4 linked regions of the Homo sapiens genome follow. The protein of the gene in region 1 interacts with the protein of each later gene in a pairwise test. Each region holds a gene or a part of one and is shown in the gene's direction. Other genes may lie near its edges. The genes, in order: TRIM68, LZTFL1, UBE2U and HUNK.

The links.
Region 2: the proteins of TRIM68 (region 1) and LZTFL1 interact in binary tests that used the Homo sapiens proteins (3 or more experiments, as listed by UniProt).
Region 3: the proteins of TRIM68 (region 1) and UBE2U interact in a two-hybrid assay, tested with the Homo sapiens proteins (one large-scale study listed by BioGRID and IntAct).
Region 4: the proteins of TRIM68 (region 1) and HUNK interact in a two-hybrid assay, tested with the Homo sapiens proteins (one large-scale study listed by BioGRID and IntAct).

What each region holds. Positions count from the first base shown.
Region 1 is NC_000011.10:4,601,701-4,605,268, reverse strand, and holds part of TRIM68 (E3 ubiquitin-protein ligase TRIM68), read left to right. Parts: coding exon 1-190; intron 191-1,928; coding exon 1,929-2,024; intron 2,025-2,856; coding exon 2,857-3,117; intron 3,118-3,568. UniProt on the Homo sapiens protein: Functions as a ubiquitin E3 ligase. Acts as a coactivator of androgen receptor (AR) depending on its ubiquitin ligase activity.
Region 2 is NC_000003.12:45,828,573-45,832,140, reverse strand, and holds part of LZTFL1 (leucine zipper transcription factor-like protein 1), read left to right. Parts: intron 1-1,002; coding exon 1,003-1,068; intron 1,069-1,150; coding exon 1,151-1,228; intron 1,229-3,525; coding exon 3,526-3,568. UniProt on the Homo sapiens protein: Regulates ciliary localization of the BBSome complex. Together with the BBSome complex, controls SMO ciliary trafficking and contributes to the sonic hedgehog (SHH) pathway regulation. May play a role in neurite outgrowth. May have tumor suppressor function.
Region 3 is NC_000001.11:64,202,338-64,206,438, forward strand, and holds the start of UBE2U (ubiquitin-conjugating enzyme E2 U), read left to right. Parts: upstream 1-1,285; 5' UTR 1,286-1,713; coding exon 1,714-1,779; intron 1,780-2,203; exon of another isoform or gene 2,204-2,446; intron 2,447-3,301; coding exon 3,302-3,383; intron 3,384-4,101. UniProt on the Homo sapiens protein: Catalyzes the covalent attachment of ubiquitin to other proteins.
Region 4 is NC_000021.9:31,875,975-31,879,542, forward strand, and holds part of HUNK (hormonally up-regulated neu tumor-associated kinase), read left to right. Parts: intron 1-3,568.

The sequences.
Region 1 (3,568 bases):
AGAAAAAGTCCGTCTGCTAAGGCTACATCCAGGAATGGGGCTGAAGGGTGACCTGTGTGAGCGCCATGGGGAAAAGCTGAAGATGTTCTGCAAAGAGGATGTCTTGATAATGTGTGAGGCCTGCAGCCAGTCCCCAGAGCATGAGGCCCACAGTGTTGTGCCAATGGAGGATGTTGCCTGGGAGTACAAGGTGAGAGATGGAAGCTGGCCACTCCAGTCTAACCCCGGCCCCAAGTTGGCTGTTTCTAGATCAAGGGCTTGACCACCAGCACCACAGACTGAGAGCTAACTCCTTTGGTTCCTGACACCCAGAGATCCCTGGAATCTGATACAGAGAGCTATACCTTTCCTTGTATTCATGACCTTCCTTGATTTCCTGCTCTCCCACTTCCTCTACACCTACATCCTAACAGGGCTCAATTCCTAACCCAAGGCTGATTTCAGTAATGAGAATGTGAAGGAAAACAGTTTGGGTTTTAACTGAGATTCTGGATGCCTTGGATGAGTTTAGGCATGAGGCTCTTATATAGATGGTCAAGGCTACACCTGACCTGCAAACTCCTCCTAGCAGTGCTGCAAGTAGTCATTTGGCATTGAATGGATCACTTCCCTCCTTCATTTTATAGACAAAAGTGAGGCTTAGAAAGTTGAAAACATGGCAATTTATTTTAGAGGTGGAAAGAACTATGGGTGAGTCACAAGATTGAGAGAGGTCATCTGATATAGTCTTCTCAGGTCCTTTCTGACTTCAGGTCCAGTTAGTGAAAGGAAGATCAGAGGCTGTGACTCAAGTCTTCTTGCACTTTCTCCTCTCCCAAGTTTGTTTGTTTGACAAGTCATCTCTGACAAACCTGGGACTCCTTTTTTGTAGCTAACCTCATCAACTTCCAGCTTCTGGGCTTCTCTTTACTCTTTCATCAGATGCCCATAATGACATCTTTATCGGAACCATTATCTCAGTGATTCTGTGATCCAGTGATCCAGCATTGGTCTCAACTCTCTTTTTTGGAGTTGAAATAGGAAGGTGAGAGTGTAAGACAAATCCCCTGAATTAGCTTTTTTCCTATATGGGAGGGATTTCTAAAATATGAAAAGTATTTACTAACTCATTCTGTTTTTGAGACTATTAGAAAAGGGAGCTAGTATAACATAGGGGTAAAGGGCTGGATGAAATCCCAGCCCAACCATTTATTACCTGAATGACTTTGGGTAGGTCACCCTCTAAGCCTCAGTTTTCTTGTCTATAAAATAAGGTTAATACCAGCCTCAGAGGATTGTAAGTATCACATGCATATTTAGAGCTGAAAATATACCTGACACTTGATATATTTTAACAAAATAGTTGCTATTTTGTTAAAATAGCAGAATTAAATGGTGTTTCTGCACAGTTTATGCTTTTCAGTAGAAATCCCTTGCATTACTATTCTAGGAAAGTGCTTCTTACCCTTAATAAGCATATGAACCACCTGGGAGATCCATCTAAAATTGAGATTCTCATTTGGTAGGTCTAAAGTAAGGCCAAGATTCTGCATTTCTAACAAGCTCCTAGGTGATGTGGATGCTGCTGATCCACTTGAACCACATTTGGAGTAACAAGGTTCTGGCAGACAGTAAGATAAAAATAAATAAGATAAGGATAAAAATTGGCATGGAAAGGAAAGTCCAAGGTACTTTTGTGGAGAGGTTGTAAATGGACCTTTTCTTCCAGTTTACAGACATTTAGAGACTGTGGGAGTTGAAATGATTCTCAGCCCAGAGAGCTACCTCGGATGTCATCTGGGCAGAGTCTGCTTCCTCTGTGGCATTCCCTTTCCCCACAGCCTTCACTGTGGCCGGTTGCCTGAAGGACTCTGGTTCTCCCATAGCCTCCCAGTGCTAGGAAGCCTAGGCTGCCGGAGGTGGCCTCATGAGGGTTTTGTCTCTTGCAGTGGGAACTTCATGAGGCCCTCGAACATCTGAAGAAAGAGCAAGAAGAGGCCTGGAAGCTTGAAGTTGGTGAAAGGAAACGAACTGCCACCTGGAAGGCAGGTTGCCTCGTGGGGAAAGGAGTTTGTGTCAGTCGTCCTGTGTGGTCCTGGAGCTGGCCTAGGGTAGCATTCTCATCACTGTGAGGCAGAATGTGAGGCTTGAAATCACAGAGCCTAGGGTTCTAATCCCTGCTTTCTCTGTCCCAGGCCTTAGGTAGGCCACGTCACCTCTTAATTCCAGTTTCTCCATGGGGATGTAGGGATAACCTCTGGTCTTGTATCCTCCTATATGAGAAAGGAAAAGCACATGCTCACGTGTGTCAGCTCACAGTGGCATGGCTTATATCATGCTTGTAAAGCAGAGTTTCTCTTTCATTTTCCCAAGTTAGAGAATATTTGCTAAGAGTCTGGTTATTAAAATATTGTAAAATCACCTCTGAAATAAATTTGAGGCCAGTAAGTATCAAACTACTAGAACTTTTGATCAACAGAAAGTAACACTGAACCAATCTAAAACAGCATGTTGAACAGATATAATATCAACATGAAAATGAACCACCTAACAGTGTAGTTAAGTTACACTGCCTTAGAGACTTAAATGTAACACATCTTGTCATTATTCTGAAAATGGAAAATAGTCTAGAGCATGTAGTATTAAGATAATATCCTGGACCCTACTGGAGTCAATAAGAGTGACAATAGAGACCTAGAAGCATGTGGTGGAGCTGGGAGAACAGGAAGCTAGGAAAAATAGTATCCTTTATCTTTGCCCCTGCATAGCCTGTCACGTGGTTGGTACCATTGCAGAGTATGTGTGTATGCATATGTCAGTATGCTCGATACTGGGTGACTGAAAGTATCAGTGCTGATTTCCATCTTGGCTCCACAGATACAGGTGGAAACCCGAAAACAGAGTATTGTATGGGAGTTTGAAAAATACCAGCGATTACTAGAGAAAAAGCAGCCACCACATCGGCAGCTGGGGGCAGAGGTAGCAGCAGCTCTGGCCAGCCTACAGCGGGAGGCAGCGGAGACCATGCAGAAACTGGAGTTGAACCATAGCGAGCTCATCCAGCAGAGCCAGGTCCTGTGGAGGATGATTGCAGAGTTGAAAGAGAGGTCGCAGAGGCCTGTCCGCTGGATGTTGCAGGTGAGTAGTAGGTTTTCCTGGTAACCCTGAGTGACAGCTGAAGATAGACTGAGACTCCAGGAGAGAGCATCAGTTACCCTTCAGTAGGGACTGCCAGCCCTCTGCCAGCTGGTCATGGATCCTGTGTTTCCCCAGCTAATACCTGCTGTTTCCCTATCCCTGGCTGGTGGATGACCTGGTCTGTTGTAGCATCATAGGTGGGGCAGTGCTCAGGCAGCTCTGGCGTCATTCCAGGCCCTCTCCTCTAGCCCGAGAGTCTTGAGATGGAGCCTGAAATTGGCCAGTTCAGCCAAAGCTCAGCCTGCTCTTCCATCCTTCCATAGGCTTCTCCTTACCTCTGCATGGCATCTCTCCATTCTTGGTATCTGTCTCCCTTCCCCTAGAGAAACTCCCTGCCAGTTCGATGTCTGTTCCCTCTGAGGAATAGCACTTACTCAGATGCTGCATTTTT
Region 2 (3,568 bases), on another chromosome or scaffold:
CACGCCATTCTCCTGCCTCAGCCTCCGAGTAGCGCCTGCCACCACGCCCGGCTAATTTTTTGTATTTTTAGTAGAGATGGGGTTTCACCATGTTAGCCAGGTTGGTCTTGATCTCCTGATCTTGTGATACGCCCGCCTCGGCCTTCCAAAGTGCTGGGATTACAGGTGTGAGCCACCGTGCCCGGCCAAAAATGTAATAGTTTTATTGGGAAAGTAGAACTGATGTTCTAGAAATAGAGACCAGAGAATATTCTCCTGTGTGCTACAGGTGTCATACTGGGTAGCAGAGAAGACTCAGTTGTGTGTGGATAACAGTAGGTGAGAACAGGCTCTTGGGTAAAGGGGTACCTAAGCTGGGCCTTGAAGGATGAAGACCAGTTAAATTGTAGAGGAAAGAGAAGTGAGTGTGTTGGGCAGGAGAACAGAACAGGCAGTGGTCAGACAGGAGGCGGCATGACTTGAAACAGAGTGCAGTGCCCTCTGACTGGGCTGATGTGTTTATTTGAGTCTACTGAAAAATAACACAGATGATTCAAATGTTTGAGCTGTATAAGAACAAAAGTGTTTGGCCTCACCTCAGTCAGAAGCATCTGTGGGCTTGAGCATGGTACTGAAGTGAAGGAGTTCTCAGGATAAGGGGCAACAGTGTGCAGTGTAGGCTGAGAATAGACCCAGGATTTGCAGGACCAGCTAGGAGAAAGTTGGCAGGGAAGCGGGTCTTTGGAAAAAAATTTGAAAACAGAAAACAGAGGACTGAAAGAGGGAAGATGTGTCTGAGAAACTGAAAGAAAAGAAACTAGATGTCTTAGATCCAAAGCTGACTCACAGATACTGAGGCTGATAGGCTGGATGAAATTGGGATATTACCAAAATATCAGTAGTACATTTTTGAGCTATTATGTAATTTAAATTTAAAAATTAGATTTTTAAGTGAAACAAGTAATAATTTCAAATATTAAAATATTTTGGTTAATATAATAAAATTTGAATTTACTCACAAAGGAAATTTTAAGACTTCAAGAAGAGAATGAGAAATTGAAGTCAAGGTTGAAGACCATTGAAATACAGGTAACTGAGAAATGTTTTGACACAATTATTGAACTGCCTACAGATTAAATACTGAAAGTGTTTTGTTTAAACTTCACTATAGGCTACAAATGCACTGGATGAAAAGTCAAAACTAGAAAAAGCACTGCAAGATTTACAGCTTGATCAAGGAAATCAAAAGGTGAAACAAGTTTTAGCTACCTTTCTCACATTTTCTAAGTAGAATGAAGTTATAAACTTAAAATTAAGTCTTAGTTACTGCTCACTGTACCCCACCCCTGCTACTCCCTGAGACAAATGCCTCTATTGTCATGTGTTGGGACATTCTTGCCCCCAAAAGGCCTGGTGAGAACCAGTGACCTTCCCTCTGTCCATCCTCTAGGGCAGAGGGGACAGTACATAGCTCACACACCTGCAGTTTCCCTGGCATGCAAGATATTCTCACATTTATTTTTTAAGTTTTTCTACAATCTTCCTGGTATGCAAGATATTCTCACTTTTTTTTTTTAAGTTTCCCCTCTCACTTTGACATCCAATTACAGTGGAGGGGAAAGAAAATGAAAAGAAAAGTTTTTAATTGGTTTATATTTGGGTTTTATTATACTGAACATTACTTAAGTTTGCCTTTGATGAGTGTGACAAAATGATTATGAATCTGCAGATGCGTCTGTACCCGCCGGCACCATAGAGTACAATGAAATCCAGTGTTGTAGTTCTTCATGCTTGTCTGAATGTAATGACTGAATGTCACTCCGCCTGCGGGAAGTCATTGTATGTACAGTCTGTCTCCTGTGGACTTTCTGTTGAGTGTGCATGCTGCAGTATGATTTCCTGTGAGCAGGACCATTTGGGTAGATATTCAGTACAGCATTGGCTTTTCTAGTGGTCATACTCTCATTGCAAATGTCTGGTAAACAAACCCAAAATCTGCTTCACTGGGCTTTTGCTAATCTTTTCTCTATGAAAAATTTCAAACATACACAAAAGTAGAGAGAATAGTATAATGAACCCCCATGCACTCTTCACTCTATTTAGCAGTTACCAATGCATGGCCAGTCTGGTTTCATTTGTACCTCTACTTTCTTCTTCCCACCAGCCATGTTTTTTTGAAGCAAATCTCAGACGTTGAACCATTTTATCTGTAGATATTTTTAAAATAGGAGGATACTTCTTATATAGCTAATGATTTTCAACCATTATATGCCAATGACAATAGATTTATAAAAACACGAATGTTCCAGAACCGCTTTATAATTTCTCCTAAGTCAAACAATTGCAAACACATGTGGCTGATGAATTTGTTTAAAAGCTTTTTGGGGCTTTGCTCCAATTTTACTTTAAGATTTTGGACACAAGAACAACCAGTGAATACGTGCTTTTATTAGTTGCAATGAAAATCTTTTTTTCAAAGACCAGATTTCAAAAATGAGGAAAGATTTTTTTTTTCTTCTGTTGAAAGTACTTTTTTTTTTTTTTTTTTTTTTTCTTTTGAGACAGGGCCTTATTCTGTTTCCCATGCTGGAGTGCGGTGGTGCAACCATGGCTCACTACAACCTTGACCTCACCGGCTCAAGCGATCCTCCCACCTCAGCCTCCCAAGTGGTTGGGACCACAGGCATGTGCCACCATGCCTGGCTAATTTTTTATATTTTTTGTAGAGACGGGGTCTTGCTCTGTTGCCCAGGCTGGTCTCAATTTCCTGGGCTCAAGTAGTCCTCCTCCCTTGGCCTCCTAAAGTATTGGAATTACAGGCGTGAGAGCCACTTGAAAGTACTAAGTATTTCTTCATCTACATATTAACCAATTGTAGACCATTTTACTGTCTTATCAGTACAAATGTTTTTTCTGTCATGAATCTTATCCAGTCAAAAACAAGATCCAGGAAGAGAGAAGATCCAGTGCCTGTCTTATGCTATAGTTGTCAAAGTATGCAAAAATTACACATATCTCATGAATATAAAAAACTTAAAATCTTAAAAATTTAGAAAACCATGTAATCAGTAATTGTGCTCTCATATTATTTCCTTGTAAATAATGACTAAAACATATGTCTATTAAGTTTTTGGTATAAATTATATTACTTTTATCATTTTTTCTATCATTTTGAAGAATTCAAACTTCTTTGAGGATTTTTTTAAATTTGGCTTTTCAAAATGAAACCTGTTTGCCATCTCAACCCTGGTACACACATCTTGGATGGAAATACCAGCAGTTCACAAATCATATTTTATGTATTTGGAATTCAGTGGCTACTGAGTGTCGGCTGTGTGCAAGACACCACGTACCCAGGGCTGACAATGGACTGGCCTGCTGGTGACTCTGAAGGGGCTGGCACTTACCTAGGCTGGCAAGGGAGGCTGGCATGCACACAAAACATACATCATTTTTTTCATCTCCTATGATGTTGAATCACCATTCTAAAACAGTTATTTTTAGAATATCAACATGAAATTACATGCATGCATTTATTTTTCATAGGATTTTATAAAGGCCCAAGACTTAAGTAACTTAGAAAACACTG
Region 3 (4,101 bases), on another chromosome or scaffold:
AATGGATTCCCATAGCTATTCAAATAAAGCCCAAACTTCCTACTGTATAGTGCCCATCTTTATCACACCCCTCCCAGGCTCCTCCACAACCTCCCTGACCTTCCCTTGTTCCCTTTTCAAGACAAGCTCTTTCCTGACTCAAAAATATCTTGTTTTCCTCTTCCTAGAACTCTCTGCCCTCAATATTTCATGTAGCAGGCTCCTTCTCATCTTTCATGTATGAGTTCAAAACCCCATTCCTTACAGAGGCATTTCCTGACTACCATTTCTAATCCTTAATGACCTACCCCAATCTCTATCATGGTACTGTTTTATTATTGTCCACATAACGTTTATCACCATCTGAAATCATGATTTTTGTTTTGCATACTTGTTTATTGTATATTGGAGCCATAAAGACATTTACTTCATTTGAATCTTTCAAGTAAAAAAAAAGTATTTAATAAATATTTGTAAAATGAATGGACTAAATGAACATCCGGATTCTATAAAATTAGTAAGTAAAAAGTAAAAAAAGAAAGTATTCTGAACAAAGATGCCAGGCTTTGTAGTTGGCGCTGGCAATGGAACCGTGTCTTTCAGTAGTTCCCACTCTGGTGAAGACAATAGACAATTGTGATGCCGTATGGCAAATGTTAACTAGGAGGCAAATAGAAGGTCCTGTGGGATCACAAAAGAAAGGATCCCTTAAAGAGTCGTTAAAATCTGAAGGATGAGTGAGTGAAGGGGAAATGAGGGCTGAAGGGGTGGAAGGAATGTGGTAAACTCCTAGGTAGAAGGAACAGCAGGTGCGAAACTGTGCGGGAAGAGATGGGAATCAGAGAAATTTTAAGCAGTTCCCTGTTCCTGGAGCACTTTCCCAGGGTGATTGTAGGGTTTGATGACATAATAGCATGCACACTACTGTGAATGGTAACTCGCCATGTAAGTTAAGATATTGTTATGCAGACCTGTACCTACCAGTCACTTACTATATCTTTTGATAGTCAAAGAAAAAGGAAGGATAATTTCGAAGAAAGACTTCGTGGGACGGCTTCTGTGACTTACATGCTGGGTCCTGGGACCTCACCCCATCCTCTACACTAGTTTTGTACAGTCCATGTTCGTGGCCTGAGAAGGCGTGGTGTTGCCTTGACCACGAATCTCATTGGCCTTTCAAAGGGGAAACTGTTGTAGGATTGGCTGTGGAGATAGCAAGAGGCCTGCCCCCTGTCGCTGATTGGGTGAGAGCGGCCAACCCCCTGCCTCCGTCTCTCGGCGGCCCCACGGGGGCCTGTTGGTTGGCAACCGATTTGCTTCCTCCGGTGCGTGGCTGCGGGGTTGCACCTGTGAAGCGAAGACAACCTGCTAGGACCCTGATAGGCGTACACCTCTCACTCCCACTCACGCGCCGACGACATGGGCTTGTCTCCGTTACTCATCCAAGTTTGTCTTGAGACTGGGCTGTGAGCCGGCACTGCAGTGAAACGCCGCAGATGAGGAAGTGCCCAAGTCTTCCTTCGGGAAGTTCTCGTTTAGAGGAGTCAGGAGAAAAAGTCATTGTTATATCCCAACTTTAGAAGCCGCTTATCTTGGTACCGTTCTGAGGTTCTAGAAAGCAAGTAACTTATATCAGTTTACTAAGTGTGGGAAAGTGACCCATAACTTCAAACATCTGCCTCAGAGTAAACCTGAGGCATTTGGGGACAAGTGTCAGACCCTCCGCTGCCTATCATGCACGGCAGAGCTTACCTCTTGCTGCACAGAGACTTCTGTGATCTCAAGGAGAACAATTATAAGGTAAGTACTGGGCACGTGGAGAGATGTGTTTCATTGTGCAATAATTTTTAAGAGGCAGTTTAACCCATTTTATTCTATAAGTAGTAATTTAGTTAAACCTGATTTGCCACTACAGTATTGTTATTTAATAAATCCATTTCACTGAAGTAATGTGTTTCATATTAATAACAATTATTATTACTTCAAAATAATAATGCTTAACAATATTGAACATATTATGCAGAGTAATTTATGTGGATCTAGGCACTGAATATCAGGGTCTGTCATGTAGTTAGTGACTAGTAGGTGCAGGCTTATGCTCATTAATTATAATACTATACAATAAGTAGTATTTCATTTTACTTACCAAAAACCTAAGCCTCAGAAATATTCTGTAAAGATTTTGCCCCATGATTCCATTACAGGGTTTTTGGACTTCAAAGCCCTAGTTCTTAATTCCTGTGTTCCACTGCTTACTGTCTAGTGTACTTTTACCAGCATGACACATAAATGCCTTCCCTTTATAGTTTTAACACAAAAGAAGCAATGTCCTTGGGCTTAAACGCCACCAATGAGGTTATCAATGTCCATGGCTGCCACAGGCTGATTTACGGAAAATGAAAAATGGAAGAGGGGGCGAAGAGGGAGTGCTTAAGAGAAAGAACAGAAAGAAAGCTGTCCATGAAAGGTATAGAGTGCTTCCCACAGTTGCTTCAGGTGTAGTTCAGTGGCATTGTTCATTTTTTACCTCTGCTATAAAAGTACTGCATTCACTGGAGATGTTAGGAACAATTATGGAGTCCAACAGCGAACATTCCTGGGGCATGGACCTAACATTTGATATTGTTTCTGCTCATCCTGAGCTCTGTAGTTCTCTGTTGAAAGAGAATCCAATGAAGGAATATGTAAATATAGATAATAGAGAGACAGGGCTCACCCAGACAAGCACTAACATACTTAATAACTATGTGGATGCTCAGAAGTGTTTTTATGTGTTTGTAAGTGTGTTACTTAACGTAATTCATAAGGTTTTCTATGAAATACATTCTTGTCCCTCCATTGGAACAACTCCTCAAGTATAGGAAAACTTTGCTTTTATATACAAGTGTAATTTTGGATTTTTTCTTAATGAAAATGTTCCCACTTCATGCCTTTCATATAGCATTCATATAGCTCTAAAATGTTTTGAAGAAACATGCACTTTCCAACTATTTCTTTCTTTTAAAATTTGAATATTAAATTGGTTATTGATTTACACAAACAGTATATAAGCCACACATTCTAATCTTGACTCTCTAGTCCCACTTGTGATTTCCACACTTATGATTTATTTTTAATTACTATTGCATATGTTTTCTGGGATCTATATTAACTTCCGTGAAATAAGACATGTAACACTTCCCCAGAGCAGCAAATAAATAAACTTATCAAGGAAAGAAAATTTAGAGTTTTTAGAATTCAGTGTGACCTGGTATATGATTTTCAAAACTTCAATAAATACTTAATAAGTTTTTTCTGATTTAATTTTGTTTTTAACTTCAAGGGTATCACTGCTAAGCCTGTAAGTGAAGATATGATGGAATGGGAAGTTGAAATTGAAGGTCTACAGAATTCAGTTTGGCAGGGTTTGTATTTTCAAAACCAATCTATTTTTTAAAAAAGTCTTTATACCATTATTAGCCCATCCTCTTTTTATGTAGGATAAGGTCGCATTATATAAATTTCCTGAAATTCTTCTTCATATGCATAAGTTTGCATTATACCAGTTGTCTAAAATTCTAAAAATATTCCCATTTTTTTTATTTATGACTTTTTTGCCATGTGTCAACATAGATGGAAATTTGGGGTATTTTTCTTTATGCCAAATCTTAATTTTATTACATTTTTAAGAAGCAGACACAATAGAGCATATCAATTGAGAGAATATCGTCTGCCTTCCGTGAGATCAGGGAATAACTATCAAAATTCCTATTGGCTTCAAAACCCCACAGTTACTTCTCATTTTTTCCTTTATGATTTTCCCCCAAATTTTCATAAATCAAAAAATCTCAAGAACACTAAGCCACTATAAACTTTAATGCTCATGTTTTCTTTCAATTATGGATTAATAAGATAGATTCCTTGAGTGAGGTAGGGGAGACAAACACATCAGCTGATAATTACAATAAAATATACATTATTATGGATTTTGAACAGAATGCTAAAGAGGAAGAGGATTAGTTAATTATGCCTGAGGGAGTCAGGAATGTCTTCCCAAGGAGATCACATTTGAGTTGAGTCCTGAAGAATCTGCCAGGTTCAGAAGAAGGATAAGGAAATTCGGGCAGAGTAAACAGCACAGCA
Region 4 (3,568 bases), on another chromosome or scaffold:
CGCTTGGGTTCTGGAGCTCTGTGCTGGGCCCACTGGGAACCCCGACATGCAGGGAATTCTTGCCCAAATAGGATTCACATGAAGAGACTCGCTGCTTCCCCAGGTGCCCACTCCCCTTCCCTCCCATCTTATGTTTCTTAAATGATGAATCTCACTTCATTGTTGCAATGACAGGAGATGTTAATTGGATGTAAAATTATTCCCCTGGACCCATTGGTGGACTGCGGGTAAGGATGGTGGTTCTTTGGGTGGAGAAGGAGGCAGGGGAGAGATGTCTGTGTTGAAAAACTTGGTTTTCCCGGGATGCTCCTCCCCAGCGGGGAGAATCAGTGCTCCAGGGATTGCGGGCATTGGGAGAAATCTGGATTTTAGTTCACTCAATTGCTGGCTTTAAAGAAACAATGGTGTCATTCATAACATTTATCTCCCAAATCCAGCACCTTTAATGCTTAACTAATAGATTTGGGTTTTAGCAGATTGTGGGGATTAAAATGGTTGTGTGTGTATGCTTGACTCTGAGAAAGATTGCTAAATTAAAATGAGTCCTCATTCCCACTCTAGTTTTGGGTATTGCCTAACTAAGGCCAAAACAAAGATGACCACAGCCTCAGGCTATTTACAACCTGAAGTTCTTTTAAAAGGTGAGCTACTAAGATGATTTTGGCCTGGGGAAAGTTTCCTCCAGTGAGCAGAGCTGAGGAAAAGGAGGTCATTAAGCCTCCAGTGTCCCCCACTGTGGGTGACCCAGGGAGGCCTCTCTCCCTCATTAATTCCTCTTTTCTTGGGGTGTGTACATTTTGGATTTAGAATTTCACTTTTCTCCTGTCCTATCTATTTATTTTTTAAATTTTTTATAAAGACAGGGGTCTCACTGTGTTGCTCAGGCTGGTCTCCAACTCCTGGCCTCAAGTGATCCTCCCACCTTGGCCTCCCAAAGTGCTACAATTACAGATGTGAGCCACTGCACCTGGCCCATCCTTTTATAAAGGATCCATTCCACATTAGGAGGGGAATGAAGTCATTAATACTGTAGTGAGAAGTACTCCCAGCCCACGTGGAGCGAAAGGATTCAGGGCAGCTTGTCTTGGGAAATCAGTCCATGAAAAAGCTGAAAGAGGGCATAGGGAAACAGAAGTTGAGAGGGCACCCCAAGTTTGGCCTGCTTCATAGCTGCATTCTCAAACTGTGAGAATTAGTTTTGGGTGATTTGTGCTAAAATCTAGGGCATTGCTAGTTGAAGGCATTTGGTATGGGGGTGTGTGTGTGTGTGTAGCGTGTTGTGTTTCGACTTGGTTACACTTCCAAAAAGCTTTGGGTGAAATCCTTCATGGTTTGCTGGGAATCACTGTCTGAGTCCAGATGACAAAGGGAGCCAGTTTTTCCCAACTTTCCTTTTAGGTTTCAATTTGATCTCATCAAGAGGCTGCTTTTGCCACCACTGCCTGTAGGACAATCTTTTGCCTGCTTTTCCTCTGAAGTTGTTTGTTTAGAAGCCATTTGAATCTAGATGGCTCTTTTACTGCTTGTAAAGGAAAGATGGCTTGCGGCTGAGACCTAATTGTGTCCTCCTTTGAGTTAATGCAATCTCTGTTAATCTGGCTTTAAAAATAAATAGTTCACTTGGCCATGTGAAACTCTTAATAGGTACCTTCACAGTCAGGGCTGAGTGTCTTTGACCAAAGTTGATGATTAGACCAGGGAAAATGATCACAAAACCAGATTCTGAAAAGTACCACTCTCTGGCTTTGAGACGAAGAGCAAAGCTGTTGAGCAACAGTATGGGGTAATGACTTTGAAACACCTGGAGTGGTTGTGCTTGCAGAGCCTGGTATTGATTTGTGATACCTATGAGAGGCGTGGTCTCTGGCACATAACAAGTGCCCCCCGCCCTGGCCCCCAACCAGACAGAGTGACTTGGGGGCTGCTGCATGATCAGATAATATCATCTGTCGACAGAATAAGGAAAGTGACTTACAGAAAATTGAAGTGAGGTCCAGAAACAGGACAGACGTGGTGGCTCATGCCTGTAATCCCAGCACTTTGGGAGGCCAAGGTGGGTGGATCACTTGAGGTCAGGAGTTCTAGATCAGCCTGGCCAACATGGTGAAACCCTGTCTCTAATAAAAATGCAAAAATTAGCCAGGTGTGGTGGTGCATACCTGTAATCCCAGCTACTTTGGAGGCTGCAGCAGGAGAATCGCTTGAATGTGGGAGGTGGAGGTTGCAGTGAGCCTAGATTGTGCCACTGCACTCCAGCCTGGGTGACAGAATGAGACTCCATCTCAAAAAAAAAAAAAAAAAAAAGAGTTTAAGATTTTAAATTTCCATAAACGTTAAACTTTAAATGAAGCAACTTAGAAACCACGTATAATGTTTCTAATACAGACATTATAAATAATGTTTGTAAGGAATCAGTAAAACAATGGTCCTTTATCATCAGCAATATATTTGGATAATTCCTTAGAAGTTTGGTTTAGTGGCTGGACGCGGTGGCTCATGCCTGTAATCCCAGCACTTTGGGAGGCCGAAGTGGGTGGATCATTTGAGGTCAGGAGTTTGAGACCAGCCTGGCCAACATGGAGAAACCCCATCTCTACTAAAAACACAAAAATTAGCTGGGTGTGGTGGTGCACACCTGTAGTCCCAGCTACTTGGGTGGCTGACACATGAGAATTGCTTGAACCCTGGTGATGGTTCGTGATACCTACAAGAGGCATGGTCTCTGGCACATGACAGGTTATTGTGTTTTGTAAAAAATTGATAAAAGTTGAAAAAATATAGTTGGAAAAGCTGAATCGAGAAAAGAGTAGGTGTATCTCAGGTATTGAGCCAGTGTTGTAGGCAGGCAAACTACAGAACAAGAACAGACAGTCCATGCCACTGTTACCTTTTTTGTGATTGAGTCTCACTGAGATACAAAGTTGAGTACATAAAATGATTGGTTAAGATGTTGAAATATCTTGTTCTAACCCTTGGTTAAAGAATAATAAGCCGGCTTGTCACTTCCATCAGAACTATTTTTAGGCTAAGAGTAAGGGTTGCCTGCTTACTAAGTTGCCAGTAATCATGCTTAGAGCATGACAGTGCCAGATACCTGGAGTGAAGGAGTTACTAAAAATACGATTTACTATGTTTTGCAGAGCAAGAAATATGACTAATTTTAGAGGTGGCCTTTTGGCAGATCTGTTTTTAGCAAGTATTTCTGAAACAAACAGGTGCTAAATCCTGTATTTTTGAAGTGCTAGAAGTTTAGGGGTAATCGCTCTGAGGAACAAGAAATGCTTAGAGAACTGGAAATTCCTATTAATCCTTGGCAGGGACTTCTTGGCAAGAAGGAGGCATTTGCAAAGCACCTGCTTGGTGAGCCCTGTGTGACAAGGCAGTGCCTGTAATTTCGAGGATTGCATTCTGCAGTTGCAGGCGGATTCTTTTGAACTTCCTGCCCTGCCTCATCTTTTTGAAGTACTTGTGAATGATGGAAATTGGCACGTAGGGCCTGGTTCCTAGTGTTCATTGATACAGGTCCCACGGACTTCAAAGGGTGCTTTGAGTCAGCGCAACAGTGCAG